Homo sapiens: one gene and its partners. The protein of the gene in region 2 purifies or fractionates together with the protein of the main gene of each other region. This does not show direct contact. Each region holds a gene or a part of one and is shown on either strand. Other genes may lie near its edges.

Evidence for each region. Proteins that work in one complex are often made in the same cells at the same time.
Region 1: the proteins of KMT2C (region 2) and SETD1B purify together in Homo sapiens (affinity purification with mass spectrometry, with the first as the bait; one large-scale study listed by BioGRID). This does not show direct contact.
Region 3: the proteins of KMT2C (region 2) and ASCL2 purify together in Homo sapiens (affinity purification with western blotting, with the first as the bait; one study listed by BioGRID). This does not show direct contact.
Region 4: the proteins of KMT2C (region 2) and GRHL1 purify together in Homo sapiens (co-immunoprecipitation; one large-scale study listed by IntAct). This does not show direct contact.

The regions. Positions count from the first base shown.
Region 1 is NC_000012.12:121,810,509-121,814,008, forward strand, and holds part of SETD1B (histone-lysine N-methyltransferase SETD1B), read left to right. Parts: coding exon 1-327; intron 328-3,500. UniProt on the Homo sapiens protein: Histone methyltransferase that catalyzes methyl group transfer from S-adenosyl-L-methionine to the epsilon-amino group of 'Lys-4' of histone H3 (H3K4) via a non-processive mechanism.
Region 2 is NC_000007.14:152,183,584-152,188,807, reverse strand, and holds part of KMT2C (histone-lysine N-methyltransferase 2C), read left to right. Parts: intron 1-960; coding exon 961-1,093; intron 1,094-1,331; coding exon 1,332-1,546; intron 1,547-3,176; coding exon 3,177-3,250; intron 3,251-5,224. UniProt on the Homo sapiens protein: Histone methyltransferase that catalyzes methyl group transfer from S-adenosyl-L-methionine to the epsilon-amino group of 'Lys-4' of histone H3 (H3K4).
Region 3 is NC_000011.10:2,267,998-2,271,993, reverse strand, and holds ASCL2 (achaete-scute homolog 2), read left to right. Parts: upstream 1-1,405; 5' UTR 1,406-1,661; coding exon 1,662-2,243; 3' UTR 2,244-2,261; intron 2,262-2,867; 3' UTR 2,868-3,496; downstream 3,497-3,996. UniProt on the Homo sapiens protein: Transcription factor. Binds to E-box motifs 5'-CANNTG-3' in the regulatory elements of target genes, probably as a heterodimer with another basic helix-loop-helix (bHLH) protein such as the transcription factor TCF3.
Region 4 is NC_000002.12:9,958,193-9,961,692, forward strand, and holds part of GRHL1 (grainyhead-like protein 1 homolog), read left to right. Parts: intron 1-593; coding exon 594-664; intron 665-681; exon of another isoform or gene 682-772; intron 773-2,853; coding exon 2,854-3,244; intron 3,245-3,500. UniProt on the Homo sapiens protein: Transcription factor involved in epithelial development. Binds directly to the consensus DNA sequence 5'-AACCGGTT-3'.

The sequences.
Region 1 (3,500 bases), on a different chromosome or scaffold from region 2:
TCGGACACCGAGCTGCAGATGGAGGGCAGCCCCATCTCCTCCTCCTCCTCCCAGCTCTCCCCACTGGCCCCCTTTGGCACCAACTCCCAGCCAGGCTTCCGGGGCCCCACGCCCCCCTCGTCACGCCCCTCCAGCACCGGCCTGGAGGATATCAGCCCAACACCCCTCCCAGACTCCGACGAGGACGAGGAGCTCGACCTGGGCCTTGGGCCTCGGCCTCCACCTGAGCCAGGCCCCCCGGACCCTGCTGGGCTTCTGAGCCAGACAGCTGAGGTGGCCTTGGACCTGGTTGGAGACAGAACCCCGACCTCAGAGAAGATGGATGAGGTACCACCGTGTCTGTCCATCTGTCTGGGACTGGTTTTGTCTATCTTGTATCTCCCTTTCCCCCTTCAAGCATTTAGCATGACTAGCTAAGATGCGGAAGCAATGGGGCTAGGAAAGCCAATATAACAGGTGGAACTTACAGAATAAAAAGGGGATGCAGAAAACACCAGGGGCTGTGATTGAGCAATTGGTTTGGCAATGAGCTCCCTAGCAGCCGTGGAGAGAAGGAAAGCATGGCCTAGTTCTGATGCTCTCCTTGTTAGGTAAGAAGTCAGCTTTTCCTAGGGATAAATTCTGGCCTGAGCTGCTTTGGTAGGCGTTTGCTGAGAGTTCAGAGAGTATGAGCTGTGGGGATGGCTCTTGGTCCCCTTGTCTGTTGCGTGGCTTGGGAATGATCAGGGAGAGTCCTGGCCCTCAGGCAGAGGGGAGGAGAGAGATTGGCCAGAATACTGTGCTGGGCTAAGTGGGGTGAAGCCCCGGAGCATTGTCTCCTAGAGCCTGGTGCCCTCTGAAGAGGGGGAAACCATGGCAGACAGGGAGGGTGCTGGTTTCCCTTCTTCTCCCACTGGCTCCAGGGATGAAGGAGTTAAGAGCTAACTTGGGGTGGGGGTGGGGTGCCATGTAGCCAGAAAAAGGCAAAGTTGACCATCCCCCACCCTCTCCTCAGGTCATGGGGTCTCGTTGCCTAAACCTCCAGCCTCAGGAAGTCCCGCCCAGGGGTTGGGGGTGAGGGTGCCACGTGCCAGGTTCCCCTGGGAGGGTGTTGGGTCATCTTCCTTGGCTCCACTCCTCCTTCTCGGTCCAGGCACCTGCCTTGGAGCCGTAGTCCCGGTGGGCATGGGCAGTCAGGGGCTTAGACAGAGCTCTGCGTCCCTGTGGGCGGAGGGGAGGAGGACTGCCCCCTTCTTGGGCCCTTTGATTAGGCGGGTCTGGCTGCATCAGGGAGGAACGAGAGGAACTTGGCTTGCCTGGGAGGGTGCTGCAGGTGGCTGGGGCTCCAGGGGGCCTCCAAGCAGTTCTGGGGAAGTGGTTTCTGGCATCAAGGGGTCCAGGCAGGGGGCCTTGGCAGGGGGCGTTGACAGGTGTGCAGCTGTAGGGGGGCCGCCGGCCCTGGCACCCGTCTCCTCCGCTCCGTCTAGGCTGCCTGGGGTGAGGAGTGTTTACCATGCTGACCACGGTCCAGGGCTGAGAGGCCCGCAGTGGCTGGAGCGAAAGGCAGGCTGAGGCCCCGGGAGCGAGGGTCTGGGACTGCCCGGCCGCCAGCGCAGGGAGTCGCCGAGTGCCGGGAAGCTCCGGGCCGGCCCGCGGGCGCCCCCTGCTGGCGCCGGGGAATAGCGCCTGGGCTTTCTGCGGCCGCGCGCAGTGCGGGGAGCTGGACCCCGTCCCATCCTAGGTGGGGGAGCGGCGCAGGCGGGGCCAGCCGAGGGTGCAGGGGGGGCTTTTCTTCTAAACAGTGGCTGGTCGTTAAAAGTTCAGGCTCAAGTTCTTGAGTCCTGCCAAGTCACTTACTGGTTATGTGACCCTGGAAAAGGCACTTTTGCCTTTCTGAGTCTCAGTTTCGTCATCTGCCAAATGGGCCTGTGAGAGTCCCTGCAGCACAGGACCTCAGCTTAAGTGAGGTGCCGCACAGGATGCTCCCGGCACCGCCAGGCCTGCTGGACTCCCAGTTCTCAGCAAATTCCTGCCGCTTCTCACCCCGAGACTGCTGGGCAGAGGGAGGGGCAGGGCCGGCCGGGGCTGGAGCGCAGGATCTGCCTCCCTGTGATTGGCTGGCGGCGGCGGCCCGGGTTAACCCTCTGTGTGCCGCGGCGCGCTGTGCTCGGCTCTGTCCAGGACTGATCTGGGGAGTGCTCTCTGAGGATCCACCCGAGCCCGTCTGTCTCTTCTTGATGTGCATGGGGATCCTGAGAAGGAGAGTGTGTGCGTGCGTGCGTGTGTGTGTGTGTATGTGTGCACAGAGGGGACCTGGTAAAGTCCAGAGCTTCCTGCCGCTGCCTTAGTTTGGGTAGTCTCCGTCCTCCTACCCCGCTACCTGCAGTTTTCCTCTGAGGCCTTCCTCACCTGTAGTCTGACCTCTGATCTTGCAACTTGCACAGACTCCACCTCCACCCCCACTCCCCCTCAGCCTTCAAAGGTCCCCCCACCCCAAGTCCAGACCTGTCCACTCGGCTCCCTAAAGCCCCACGCCCATCCTTGACACCTCCCACATTTACCCCTCACCACCGCCCTGGATCCCAGCTGCAGCCCCGCACTGGGCAGGTCCTGGGCTCCAGACCTTCTTCTGACTGGCTGTGCCGCGGGGCCACGGCTGAGGCTCTGAGTGTGTTTATTAACTGTCAAATGGGTCGGAGCAGAGCCCCCCGCCCTGTGAGGTTATCTTTCGGATAAAAAATGAGGCAGCCGTCTGCAGCGCTTAGCCCCACGCGGGCCCACACTGATTGTGCAGTCACGAGACTAGGTGAAAAGAGTAATCAAGGAAAAATAAATAACAACACACTTCCTGTTTATGGGCCTTAGTGCTGCTAAACCCCCGCTCCAATGTCACCTTTCCTGCCTGGCCGTCTGCCGCAGAGTGAGGACAGCAGGGTGACTGAGAGCACAGGCTGCAGAACCACTTCCTGGTTCAAATCCCGGCTCCATCTCTTCTTGGCTGTGTGGCCTTGGGCAGGTTACTTAAATTCTCTGTGCCCCAGTTTCCTCGTGGGGCAAAAATGGAGTTGAAAATAGGGCTGTTCTGAGGATTAGCTGAGTTAATAAATGTGGAGCGTTTAGAAAGGCCCTGGCACATAAGAGACACTATGGAAGTGGCAACTATTTCTGCACACAAGTTGCAACAGAATCTCTGAAATTGCAACAGTTTCATCCTCTGTGCCCCACCCGTCTCCCTGCCTTCTTTCTCTCCCTCACGTTTCCCGTATTCACCCTCATCATCCTTTTGCCTTTTCCTGCTGGCTCCGCTCCACAAGAGTAAGATGTTTGCCTGCCTCTTCAACTTTGTGTCCCCAGCACCTAGACCAGTGCCTGGCACACAGGTACTGAGCAAATGTTTGTTGAATTGGAATGAATGAATGAATTCTAGTGGTAACTCCATGAGGCAGGGACTATGATGCCCATTTTGCAAATGAAGACGCTGAGGCTTGGAGAGGCTGAATGGCTTGCACTGGGTCACACAG
Region 2 (5,224 bases):
TGAAACCCCACCTCCACTAAAAATACAAAAATTAGCTGGGCATGGTGGCAAGTGCCTGTGATTCCAACTACTCAGGAGGCTGAGGCAGAATTGCTTGAACCTGGGAGGCAGAGGTGGCAGTGAGCTGAGATCTTGCCACTGCACTCCAGCCTGGGCGACAGAGTGAGACTCCATCTCAAAAACAAAAAAAAAAAAAAAAAAAGGAAAGAATCATAGATTTTTTTTTTTTTTTGGTATTAAGAGGAACAGGAATAAAATATAAGAAACATCTGTTTGTAAATTTTTAATGAAGAGAAAGAATATTTGATAAAACTTACTAGCATTTGCTGTGATTCATTAGTGTTTTTTAGGAGTTAATTGTGTCGAATAGTTACTGCATACCAGGAACTATGTTTAGAGCTGTACATACATTATCTCAATTAACCCAAATAACAGAATACCTACGGTTTACAGAAATAGAAATTGATTCTGCTTCTAACAGGTAAAATTGAGGTTCACACCCTGGGCTTTTGGACTCCAGAACACTTGCTATTTCTAGTACACAATAATGAAATAATCACAGCTGTAGAGATCATATTTCAAAATCTTATAGCCAAAAGTCACTCTTTAAGTATTATAAAATACTGAAAAAAATCCTACTTTTAAATTGCATTAAAGGTTTTGATTTAGAAGTATAAGCATCTCTTCTGTACTTGGGGCTTTGGTTCCAGGACCCCCAGGTATAACCAAAATCTGAGAATACAGAAGTCAAATGTTGGCCCTATGGAGCTTGGCATACAAGAAAAGTTGGTCCTCTCTATGCATGGGTTTCCCTGTGTTTTCTATCCACATTCAGTTGAAAAAAATGTGTGTTTATGTGGACCCATGCAGTTAAAAACCATGTTGTTCAAGGGCCAGCTTTACTTCAACTCCTTGTTACTTGTGAATATCATGCCAACGGAATTATTTTTTTCTCTGAAGATGCTTTTTCACGGATGCCTCTCATGAATGGCCTTATTGGATCCAGTCCTCATCTCCCACATAATTCTTTGCCACCTGGAAGCGGACTGGGAACTTTCTCTGCAATTGCACAATCCTCTTATCCTGATGCCAGGTACAAGCCTTATTTTCTATGGAAACTTAAATTGCACTAATTTCTGTTTGATTTATATATAAATTAGTCTGCTTAAATGATTGTGTATGATATTATTGTATGTTGCGTTTATTGTGGCTTTTGCTATAAATATGTTACTTTTAACTGTTTTGTAATAGGTTTTAATGAAAGCTATACTTGAACATATATTAAGAAGTTATTTTATGTTCATAAAGTAAAGATATTTATTTTTTCCCAGGGATAAAAATTCAGCCTTTAATCCAATGGCAAGTGATCCTAACAACTCTTGGACATCATCAGCTCCCACTGTGGAAGGAGAAAATGACACAATGTCGAATGCCCAGAGAAGCACGCTTAAGTGGGAGAAAGAGGAGGCTCTGGGTGAAATGGCAACTGTTGCCCCAGTTCTCTACACCAATATTAATTTCCCCAACTTAAAGGAAGAATTCCCTGGTAAGCCATGAATATATTATTTCTGTTTTACCAACATTTTCACATGTGCAATACCTTTTTTTTTTTTAACTGCAATAGAAAGGTAGCTTAACTAATTTTTGTCTATGATGACCCACAACATGAAGATTCCCTAGATGTCTAGAAACATCTTGCATTTTACTTTGTCCTAGACCCTGCATCCATCCTCATATTTCCCAAAAATTAGTTTCAATTAGTGAAATGGTCCGTTTTTCAGCTCCTAGCAGTACTTATTAATATGCAGAAATCCGTGTTATGTGATTCTTTAAAAAATTTCTAGAACCCAAACTATCATTTAATCAAAAATACTGCTAGGCTAAATCAGTGAATCCTAAATAGTGTTTTTATGAAACGAATTCAATATTGTCTTCCCTTCTTCCCCTCTCACTTTCCCTGACTGCCCAGCTATTACCACTGCCTCTTGAAAAAAACAGATGATAATAGTACAGTTTGTGAAAATTCTGATTAACCAGTGAATGAGAAATTTGGATTAATGAAATGTCAATTATTGAATATATGCAAGCAATGCGGTTTTATTATTTTGAGTTCATGGTATCAGACAAACTAGGATTGAAAAAGTTATTCAAACTCAGTTTTGCAATAGTTTCCCAGCTATCTATCAATACACAAACTCTTAAATTACTAGAGGGGTACCTGGAAGTGACTTTTCATTTGGATGACCCCTGTATTTAGGTACCTTTTTGGATTGGCGTCTTCATGGGACTTTATTCATTATGTATTGTAATAAATGAAATGCTTTTTATCTAACAATAGAAATCAGTGGTTTGATGCAGGGAGACCTGTGAAGGCAGTATCCCATTCTTCAGCCACTTTCTTTCCATGCTTACATTTGCTGTTTATGAACGTACATGGGTATGTTGTCATTTTGTGTCAGCACAAATTGTCCTTACAGCAGAGCTGTAACTTTTTTAAAAGTAATTTTCTTTAATAATTTTACTTTGTGATTCAAGAACCTCATGAAATACTGTGTTAAAGCTGTTGGTCTGTGAACTGATTTTTCATTTTCATTGGCTTTTTGGAAGCTTGCTTTCTTTTTGTAATGTGGAATAAATAATTTCTGTATTTATCATTAACTGTTGATCTTACCCAGGCTTCTTCATTTTGTATACCGTCATGACACTGAGTTTCATATAAATGGTTTGAACTCATTACTTTTCCATGTGTTTGTTGTCCACAAATGCTAGTGAGATGCTTATTTATGACTTTGTTTACTTCTGGTAGGTCAAATTGATAGATTTCTGTTTAGCACAGATGTTTTACAAACTTGTACTTTGGTTCTGGTGGTGTCTTACCACCAGAGGGAATTTATTATGTCTGGCTTGCATTTTTGCTACTTTGTCCCTTGAATCTAAAAACTTCCCAACTTTACAAGCTACGTTGTTAATAAGGCAGCACTTCATTTAGAAAACGTTTGTTTGGCCTACAGTGTGCCACGATCTTTGTTCTTTGTAAAAAACTTAATATAGGTCTATGACCTCATGAGAATACGGCCTGAATAAGATTAACTGTCAGCAGTTCATCAACATTCTTTATTACAACACATCATTAGCATGGCTCTGAGAAAGTGTTATACTCTGTTCTTTTGTTGCAGATTGGACTACTAGAGTGAAGCAAATTGCCAAATTGTGGAGAAAAGCAAGCTCACAAGAAAGAGCACCATATGTGGTATTTTAAGAAACTCCTCTATCTTTTAAATATTTAAATACAGTGCTTGAACCTTATTTGTATTAGGTTAATAAAAAACAAATTTCCATTTCAGAAAATGCTTGTTAGTACCTGTACAACAAGCAACTTTATTTTTAAAGTGATTTTCTAACTCCTTATGTCTTAATAGAGAGTGTGACATTTTTATAAGCAAGTTAATAGAACCAAAACGTTGAAGATTGAAAATCAGCTGTTTTAGGGGGGAAGGAGTAATTCATTTCACTTTAAAATTGTTTTATCTCTTCAGCAGAGGTACAGTTGGCCGTCTGTATCCATGAGTTCTATATCTGTGGATTCAACCAACCATGGATCAAAAATATTTTGGAAAAACATCTATACTGAACTTGTACAGACTCTTTCCCTTGTCATTGTTTTTAAAACAATGTAACAACGATTTACATAGCATTTATATTGTGTTAAGTATTACAAGTAATCTAAAGATGACTTAAAGTATACAGGAGGGGCCAGGCACAGTGACCCACACCTGTAATCCCAGCAGTTTGAGAGGCCAAGGTGGGCAGATGGCTTTGAGCCCAGGAGTTCAAGACCAGCCTGGGCAACATAGCCAAAACCTCATCTCTATAAAAAATGAAAAAATTAGCTGGGTATGATGGCGCATGCCTGTAGTCTCAGCTACTTGAGAGACTTGAGAGGTTGAGGCTTCAGTGAGCCAGAATTGTACGACTGCATTCCAGCCTAGGTGACAGAGCAAGACCACCCTGCTAGGTCAAAAAATAAAAAGGGAGAAAGTATACAGGAGGATATGTGTAGGTTATATGCAAATACTGTGACATTTTCTATAAGGGACTTGAGCATCTGTGGATTTTGGTATCTGCAGGGAATCCTGGAACCAATACCCCATGGATACAGAGGGACAACTGTACTAAATTTGGAGACTGGATTGGCATGCCTCAGTGTCTTCCACAGTCACCTCTTTTCTTGTTAGGTTTCATAGAGAATCTTTGTGCATCTTGAAAGAGAAATATTTAGACATGTTTAAAGAGTTTTTGACACATGATCTTTGCCATGAACTATTAGGTAATTTTATAAGATTCGCAGTTCATATGGTAAATTATTTTCTCCCAAAGAGCCAAATTAAGATTGTCAGCTGGAACCAAATCCTTGCTTTCGTTTTAAAGCATATTAAATCTGTATTATTGTTGGAAAATATATATAGTTATTTTCCAGCTTGTTCCCCAGTGCACATATTTTCAGTTACAGTGATTATTTTGGATAGAGCATATATGTGTGTATATGCTCTATCACATATATATATATAGATGTGTTAATATGCTGTGTTTTATTTTGACTTGAATTAGGTAATGACAGAATTTTTAAATTTTTAAGTGATTTCTTTAATGATACGTTTCAAATATCCAGATTTTTTTTTTTTTAAGACTGATTGGATATTTTTCCTTTTTTCTAAATTTTTTTTTTTTTTTTTTTGAGATGGAGCTTCACAGTTGTTGCCCAGGCTGGAGTGCAATGGTGCGATCTCGGCTCACTGCAACCTCTGCCTTCCAGATTCAAGCGATTCTCCTGCCCCAGCCTCCCAAGTAGCTGGGATTACAGGCATGTGCCACCATGCCTGGCTGATTTTTCTTTTTCTTTTTCTTTTTTTTGAGACAGAGTTTTGCTCTTGTTGCCCAGGCTGGAGTGCAATGGCGCAATCTTGGCTCACCACAACCTCCGCCTCCTGAGTTCAAGTGATTCTCCTGCCTCAGCCTCCCGAGTAGCTGGGATTACAGGCATGTGCCACCACATCTGGCTAATTTTGTATTTTTAGTAGAGATGGGGTGTCTCCATGTTGGTCAGGCTGGTGTCGAACTCCCGACCTCAGGTGATCCACCCGCCTCAGCCTCCCAAAGTACTGGGATTACAGGTGTGAGCCACTGCGCCTGGCCTAATTTTGTATTTTTAGTAGAGGTGGGGTTT
Region 3 (3,996 bases), on a different chromosome or scaffold from region 2:
CTGGTCACCTTCGGGAAAAACCGGCTTGGCAAAGGCTCCCCCGAGGGCACGCGTTTCCCGGACAGTGAGGCAGGACCTAAACTCTTCCGTTAACACTACATTTTTCGCATTTCTGCAGTGTTTGCACTCTCAGGCCCCACCATTTCCCCGCATCTCTTAGGGAGAAGTTCTCGACGTCCCACCTCCCCTGGAAGGGTGCTGCTCCCAGAGACCTTCAGGCCAATGGCCCAATCTCAGTGCCCTCAGGGGAGAGGGGGGTGCAGAAAAACAGCCTGGGTCACAAAAGAGGTGCGAGGGCTGTGAGATCCCGGAGGCACCGACGGGAAGCGAGACGGAGAACAGGAGGGCAGGACGGGCTGGAGGTGGGGGATACTGCAGATGGAGGGAGCCACGGTGGGGGAGGGCGTGGACCTGACCGTCCTGGCACAAGGCGGTCGGGTGCAGACCTCCAGGCCCTCCGGGTTAAGGTGCCGCCCAGAGCCCTCAGGCCGGGGGCGCACGGAAACCACAGGCAGGGTGCGCGTGGAGGGACGGGGAAAGCGGGGCGGGTTGGGGAAGGCGCCCCGGGAACCTGAACCTCCCACCCCGCCTCAGTCTCGACCACTCCTTAAGCCCCACCCCGCCCCAGGTAAGGCGCAGTCCACCCCCATTCCCAGTAGATTAACGCACAGGTGGGGGCGCGCTCGGGACATAGCTGCGCTAGGGGACAGCGCGCCCAGCCCAGTCGCGGGGGCGAGGAGCAGGGCGGGGCCCAGCAGGAACCCAGCTTTGTTAGCGATGCTCCCCGTGAGCCACGCGCCACGCGTACGCGCTTCCTCAATGGGGCCGGGCGTGGAGCCGCGCCCTGCGCGATTGGCCAAACGGGTGGCCCACGATTGGCTGAGACCCTGGCCCCCGCCTCCTCGGCCCCAGGAGGGTGGGGCGTGGGTGTGGGCTGCGCGGCGCGTGCTGCCCCCGGGGATCTTGCGCGCCTCCCGAACAGCCGTGTTGTCGCCAGGGCCGCGCCTTCCCTCCCACAGCGCGCGCTGCGCGTGCGAAGGTCTGGCGGCTCTTGGGACTGGCGGGGCTGCGCGCGGGGTTAGGGTGGGGGTACGGGAAGGCTCAACCCAGGACCTGCGTACCTTGCTTTGGGGGCGCACTAAGCACCTGCCGGGAGCAGGGGGCGCACCGGGAACTCGCAGATTTCGCCAGTTGGGCGCACTGGGGATCTGTGGACTGCGTCCGGGGGATGGGCTAGGGGGACATGCGCACGCTTTGGGCCTTACAGAATGTGATCGCGCGAGGGGGAGGGCGAAGCGTGGCGGGAGGGCGAGGCGAAGGAAGGAGGGCGTGAGAAAGGCGACGGCGGCGGCGCGGAGGAGGGTTATCTATACATTTAAAAACCAGCCGCCTGCGCCGCGCCTGCGGAGACCTGGGAGAGTCCGGCCGCACGCGCGGGACACGAGCGTCCCACGCTCCCTGGCGCGTACGGCCTGCCACCACTAGGCCTCCTATCCCCGGGCTCCAGACGACCTAGGACGCGTGCCCTGGGGAGTTGCCTGGCGGCGCCGTGCCAGAAGCCCCCTTGGGGCGCCACAGTTTTCCCCGTCGCCTCCGGTTCCTCTGCCTGCACCTTCCTGCGGCGCGCCGGGACCTGGAGCGGGCGGGTGGATGCAGGCGCGATGGACGGCGGCACACTGCCCAGGTCCGCGCCCCCTGCGCCCCCCGTCCCTGTCGGCTGCGCTGCCCGGCGGAGACCCGCGTCCCCGGAACTGTTGCGCTGCAGCCGGCGGCGGCGACCGGCCACCGCAGAGACCGGAGGCGGCGCAGCGGCCGTAGCGCGGCGCAATGAGCGCGAGCGCAACCGCGTGAAGCTGGTGAACTTGGGCTTCCAGGCGCTGCGGCAGCACGTGCCGCACGGCGGCGCCAGCAAGAAGCTGAGCAAGGTGGAGACGCTGCGCTCAGCCGTGGAGTACATCCGCGCGCTGCAGCGCCTGCTGGCCGAGCACGACGCCGTGCGCAACGCGCTGGCGGGAGGGCTGAGGCCGCAGGCCGTGCGGCCGTCTGCGCCCCGCGGGCCGCCAGGGACCACCCCGGTCGCCGCCTCGCCCTCCCGCGCTTCTTCGTCCCCGGGCCGCGGGGGCAGCTCGGAGCCCGGCTCCCCGCGTTCCGCCTACTCGTCGGACGACAGCGGCTGCGAAGGCGCGCTGAGTCCTGCGGAGCGCGAGCTACTCGACTTCTCCAGCTGGTTAGGGGGCTACTGAGCGCCCTCGACCTATGAGGTAACAGCCGGGAGGCAGGGAGGAGGGAGGGCCGGGGGCCGGGGTGGAGGGACGGGGTGGGCAGGCCCGGCGGGTCGCGCCCCCAGGAGCCCGCGGAGCCGAGCGCCAGGCCCGAGCGATGGCTTCGATTTCGCTCACTCTTCATTTCCCCCAAAGTTTTTCAAGCCCGTGCAAGACCGGCGTTTGTTTGTCCGGGATTGCAAAACTTCCCCTCGCGGCTCAGCCGCCGACGAGGGAGGGGTAGACGAGGGGAGGGGAGCGGCCGTCGGGCCGTTGAGGTCTCTAGTGCTGGCGGATCCTGGGGCAGATTGGGGTGCTGGAGGCGGGGTGACTTTGCATTGCAAATCGCGCTCCCGGGCCGGGGCGGCAGAAATGAGTCGGCGGGCGCGGAGCCCTGACTCACCGCGGCTCCGAGCGCCCGCCCCGCCCCCGCCGTGTCTCAGACCGAGTCGCGGCACCCACGGACTCAAGACTCCAAAACCAACCGAGCAAACGAAACTGCCGACTTCGCTTGGGGGAGGTGCGGGCAGGGCCGGCCCGGGCGGGGTCTGCCCCGGGCCCGCGCCCGCGTTGACGCGCGTTTGGTTCCCCACCTTCCCCCCGCAGCCTCAGCCCCGGAAGCCGAGCGAGCGGCCGGCGCGCTCATCGCCGGGGAGCCCGCCAGGTGGACCGGCCCGCGCTCCGCCCCCAGCGAGCCGGGGACCCACCCACCACCCCCCGCACCGCCGACGCCGCCTCGTTCGTCCGGCCCAGCCTGACCAATGCCGCGGTGGAAACGGGCTTGGAGCTGGCCCCATAAGGGCTGGCGGCTTCCTCCGACGCCGCCCCTCCCCACAGCTTCTCGACTGCAGTGGGGCGGGGGGCACCAACACTTGGAGATTTTTCCGGAGGGGAGAGGATTTTCTAAGGGCACAGAGAATCCATTTTCTACACATTAACTTGAGCTGCTGGAGGGACACTGCTGGCAAACGGAGACCTATTTTTGTACAAAGAACCCTTGACCTGGGGCGTAATAAAGATGACCTGGACCCCTGCCCCCACTATCTGGAGTTTTCCATGCTGGCCAAGATCTGGACACGAGCAGTCCCTGAGGGGCGGGGTCCCTGGCGTGAGGCCCCCGTGACAGCCCACCCTGGGGTGGGTTTGTGGGCACTGCTGCTCTGCTAGGGAGAAGCCTGTGTGGGGCACACCTCTTCAAGGGAGCGTGAACTTTATAAATAAATCAGTTCTGTTTACCAGTGGCTCCTATCACCTACACTTCCCAGGTGACGGCCAGACTTCCGTGGTCACTACTCCTCAAACCCTGCTGCCTCCTCCGTAGGGTGGGTCTGGGTGAGATCTGGAGTGCAGCCAGGCCGTTGATAGCGGAGCCATTGGGACACCTTGTGAGGCTGGGGGCATCCTCCAGGAGGTGGTGGGCTGGTGGGTTGTCCAGACAGGGCTACTCGCTGGCTTGGAAGCTGCAGGCTGGAGGCTGCTGACCCATCCCGAGGGCTGGGGTAAGTGCTGGGTGTGGGGCTAGGCTGAGGTGGTCTGACCAGAGAGCACCGGCTGTGGGGCTGAGGGCATGGGCTCCTGCGCAGGCCACCACGCTCAGATCTCCACTAACGTGGCAGCTGGGCAGCCCAGGGCAAGTGGGTTAACTTGCAAATGGGTTTGACCAGACCCACCTCAACGGCCTCTGGGAGGAGTTAGTGAGAGGTGCCTGGAGGCTGCCCTCTCGCTAGCTTTGGGT
Region 4 (3,500 bases), on a different chromosome or scaffold from region 2:
AGTCAGGAAGGGTCTTGCTCTATCGCCCAGGCCAGAGTGCAGTGGCGCAATCTCTGCTCACTGTAACCTCTGCCTCCGGGCTGAAGCGATCTTCTCACCGCAGTCTCTCTTGTGTAGCTGAGACTACAGGCACATGCTACCACGCCTGGCTAATTTTAAAATTTTTTTTGTAGAAATGAGTTTCACTGTGTTGCCCAGGCTGGTCTTGAACTCCTGGGCTCAAACAATCCTCCCACCTTGGCCTCCCAAAGTGGCTGGGATTACAGACATGAGCCACCAGCTGTGGCCAGCGGAGGTATTTTTTTTTTAAGAGATGAGACCCAAACTCCATGACAAAATAAATTTATCATGCCCTGAGTTTATTTGGCAACTCAATAACAGTTGCTTTTTACATATCAACCAGATGGGTGACTAGATTTTAAGCTCGTTGAGGGCAGATATTATAATTTGTGTGTCCCCATAGCCTGGTGTTTGCTAGGCAACCAGTAGATAAATGAATGATTGAATTTACTGAAAAATAAAAGGCTGTATCTTTGGGTAAACTGCACTTCACTGGATAAGAGCTAAATTCTTTTCATGTGTGCTAATATCAGGTTCCAAGAGAGAGAAGGTCATCAACAGCAAAGCCAGAGGTGGAGCACCCTGAGCCAGATCACAGCAAAAGGTAACATTCAGTGCCTAACAGCATAAAGAGTGCAGGGGGAAATGCCACGTTTCTGTAACAGCAAAATGGGAGTTTGTTTAAATGAACAACCACTAGTGAAAGAGATAGGTAAGTTGGACTCTTACTATCTAAATTCAGATTTCATCACTGATTTGCCTCTGTTGCTCTGAAATTTCCTTTTTTCTTTGGGCGTAGTAGTTGCCTTTTCTAGGATGAAAGCACTAACATTCTCCTCCTCCAAAGGGATAGTTTTAGTAATAACTTCAGTATTTGCTTATTTGTTTTTGAGGTTTTCTTTAGAAGGATGTGTGGCAGTGGTCTATTAAAAAAATTAAGCACCAGTGACTCTTGAACAACTGCCTGAGTAAAATTGAATAAAGCAAGTTAAATTGTATTCAAATTCCTGTTGAAATTATTTGTGAAATATTTTAGATTAAAACTTTCAGAAAATTTAATTAACGTTTGGCTAGCCATGAAAAACTTTAAAAAGACACCTTTTAAATTGTCTTGTGTTTTATTATCAATCAAGGAATGAAACATATTTAAAGGAAGAATGATCATCACCCAGTATCCCATTATCGTGATGATTGCTTTATTCATTGTTTTGATGTGTATGCAAATTTTATGTAGCGTAGTTGTGTTCACAGATAGGATTTGGTAGTGTACTTTCTTCTACTTAGTTTGTTTCATAAACATTTTCTCTGTATTTTAATCTTCATAATTATCCTTTGGAAGAGGACTTGTGGCTTTTATCTTTTACTTTTCATTATGGGCATTTTCAAACATAATAAAAATAGAAAAACAGTATAAGCCCACATGTATCCATGACCAGCCTCAACAGTTATCAACACAATTCCTCTTGTTTGATTTGTTCTTCCCTCTTCTTCAACTTTGAGATTAATTCATGTTTTTATTTTATTTATTTTTGCTGGAACATTCTGAAGCAAACTGTAAATATCCTTACAATTGCTGCTATATCTAGTTTTCACTATTAAGAAGTCTTAAGGAACAACTTTCTAGACTTTTTCCGTTTTAGGATAAATTCCTGGGAGTGAATTTATGGTTCAGGGTTCAAACAGTTTTATTGATCTTGAAATGTACAGAATTCTCAATTTGCCTGTTTCTTGAAGCTTCAGCCTATATGATTTCTGGGGGCTTTGAAAATTCATTCATTTTACCCACTGGAAATCATCTTGTATTGCTCAAATTATTTATCAAACCAAAATTTAATTTTATAAAAAGCAGATGTGTCTACTGATGCAATGTAACAATAGGTTTTCTTGGGTGAAAGAGAAAGCCAGGCCCGGCACAGTGGCTCATGCCTGTAATCGCAGCGCTTTGGGAGGCTGAGGCAGGTGGATCACCTGAGGTCAGGAGTTCGAGACCAGCCTGGCCAACATGGTAAAACCCAGTCTCTACTAAAAATACAAAAATTAGCCAAGTGTGGTGGCGTGCGCCTGTAATCCCAGCTACTCGGGAGGCTGAGGTGGGAGAATCGCTTGAACCCGGGAGGCGGAGGTTGCAGTGAGCCTAGATCACGCCATTGCACACCAGCCTGGGCCATAAGGGCAAGACTCTGTCTCAAAAAAATAAAAAATTAAAAAAAAAAAAAGGAGAAAGCCAAATGGCATAGGTGGTAGGAAAAGTGGTGACCAAGTAATAATAGCTCATACTTCTTGAAGACTGTGTGTCAGGCATTATTATACACCTTTTAGTGTATCATCTCATCTCAACCTGATGAGAATGGATGCCATTATTGTCCCCATTTTGCAGATGAGGATTCAGTTACTAAGAGATGAAGTAACTTGCTCAGGTGACACAGAACTTGAACCCAGGCAATTTGACCCTGGCGTCTATGCTGTAACCCCAGTTGATCAGATCGCATAGCTTCAGGTTTCTAGTAAAACACAGTAATTGTTTTTAGGATTATGGAAAGTAAAGCTTGTTAGAGGAGAGCTCTGAGCCCTTAGTATTTCGAATGAAATTTTACTTAATAGGTTTGGATTTTATTTGACCGATAACCAGAAAGCCTTTTTCCCTTTATCTAGTAATGGGTAGTTTTGATGTTTTCTGTTTATTCTGTCAAGTGTTATTGCACAGGACCCAACAGCCCAATGCCATTAGGAAAATAAAAATTGTCAAAGAACTACATCAGCATCGCGTTTGAAAGCAGTTTTCTTTTCTTAAAGAAACAGCATACCAATTGTGACAGAGCAGCCCCTCATCTCTGCTGGAGAAAACAGAGTGCAAGTACTGAAAAATGTGCCATTTAACATTGTCCTTCCCCATGGCAACCAGCTGGGCATTGATAAGAGAGGCCATCTGACAGCTCCAGATACGACAGTCACTGTCTCCATAGCAACGATGCCTACCCACTCCATCAAGACAGAAACCCAGCCACATGGCTTCGCTGTGGGAATCCCCCCAGCAGTGTATCATCCTGAGCCCACTGAGCGGGTGGTGGTTTTCGATCGGAATCTCAATACTGACCAGTTCAGCTCTGGTGCTCAAGCCCCAAATGCTCAAAGGCGAACTCCAGACTCGACCTTCTCAGAGACCTTCAAGGAAGGCGTTCAGGAGGTAAGGAAACAAAAACATCTTCCTAAGACGCCTGCGTGTTTGTATAAGTATTGGGTTCCACCTTTTCCTTGTTATGTAAGCATGAAACTCAGCCTGAAATGAATGGATTAGGAATAAAAGATTTTTTTTTTAAGAGAAAAGGCCCATGGGTATAATTTGTAAACTAAACCTATACAACCAGAAGTTATTATCAAGGATGCAAGGCTAATCTTACCAGCAGCTGAGTTAACAATTATGATTTCAGCTAAGGGATTTG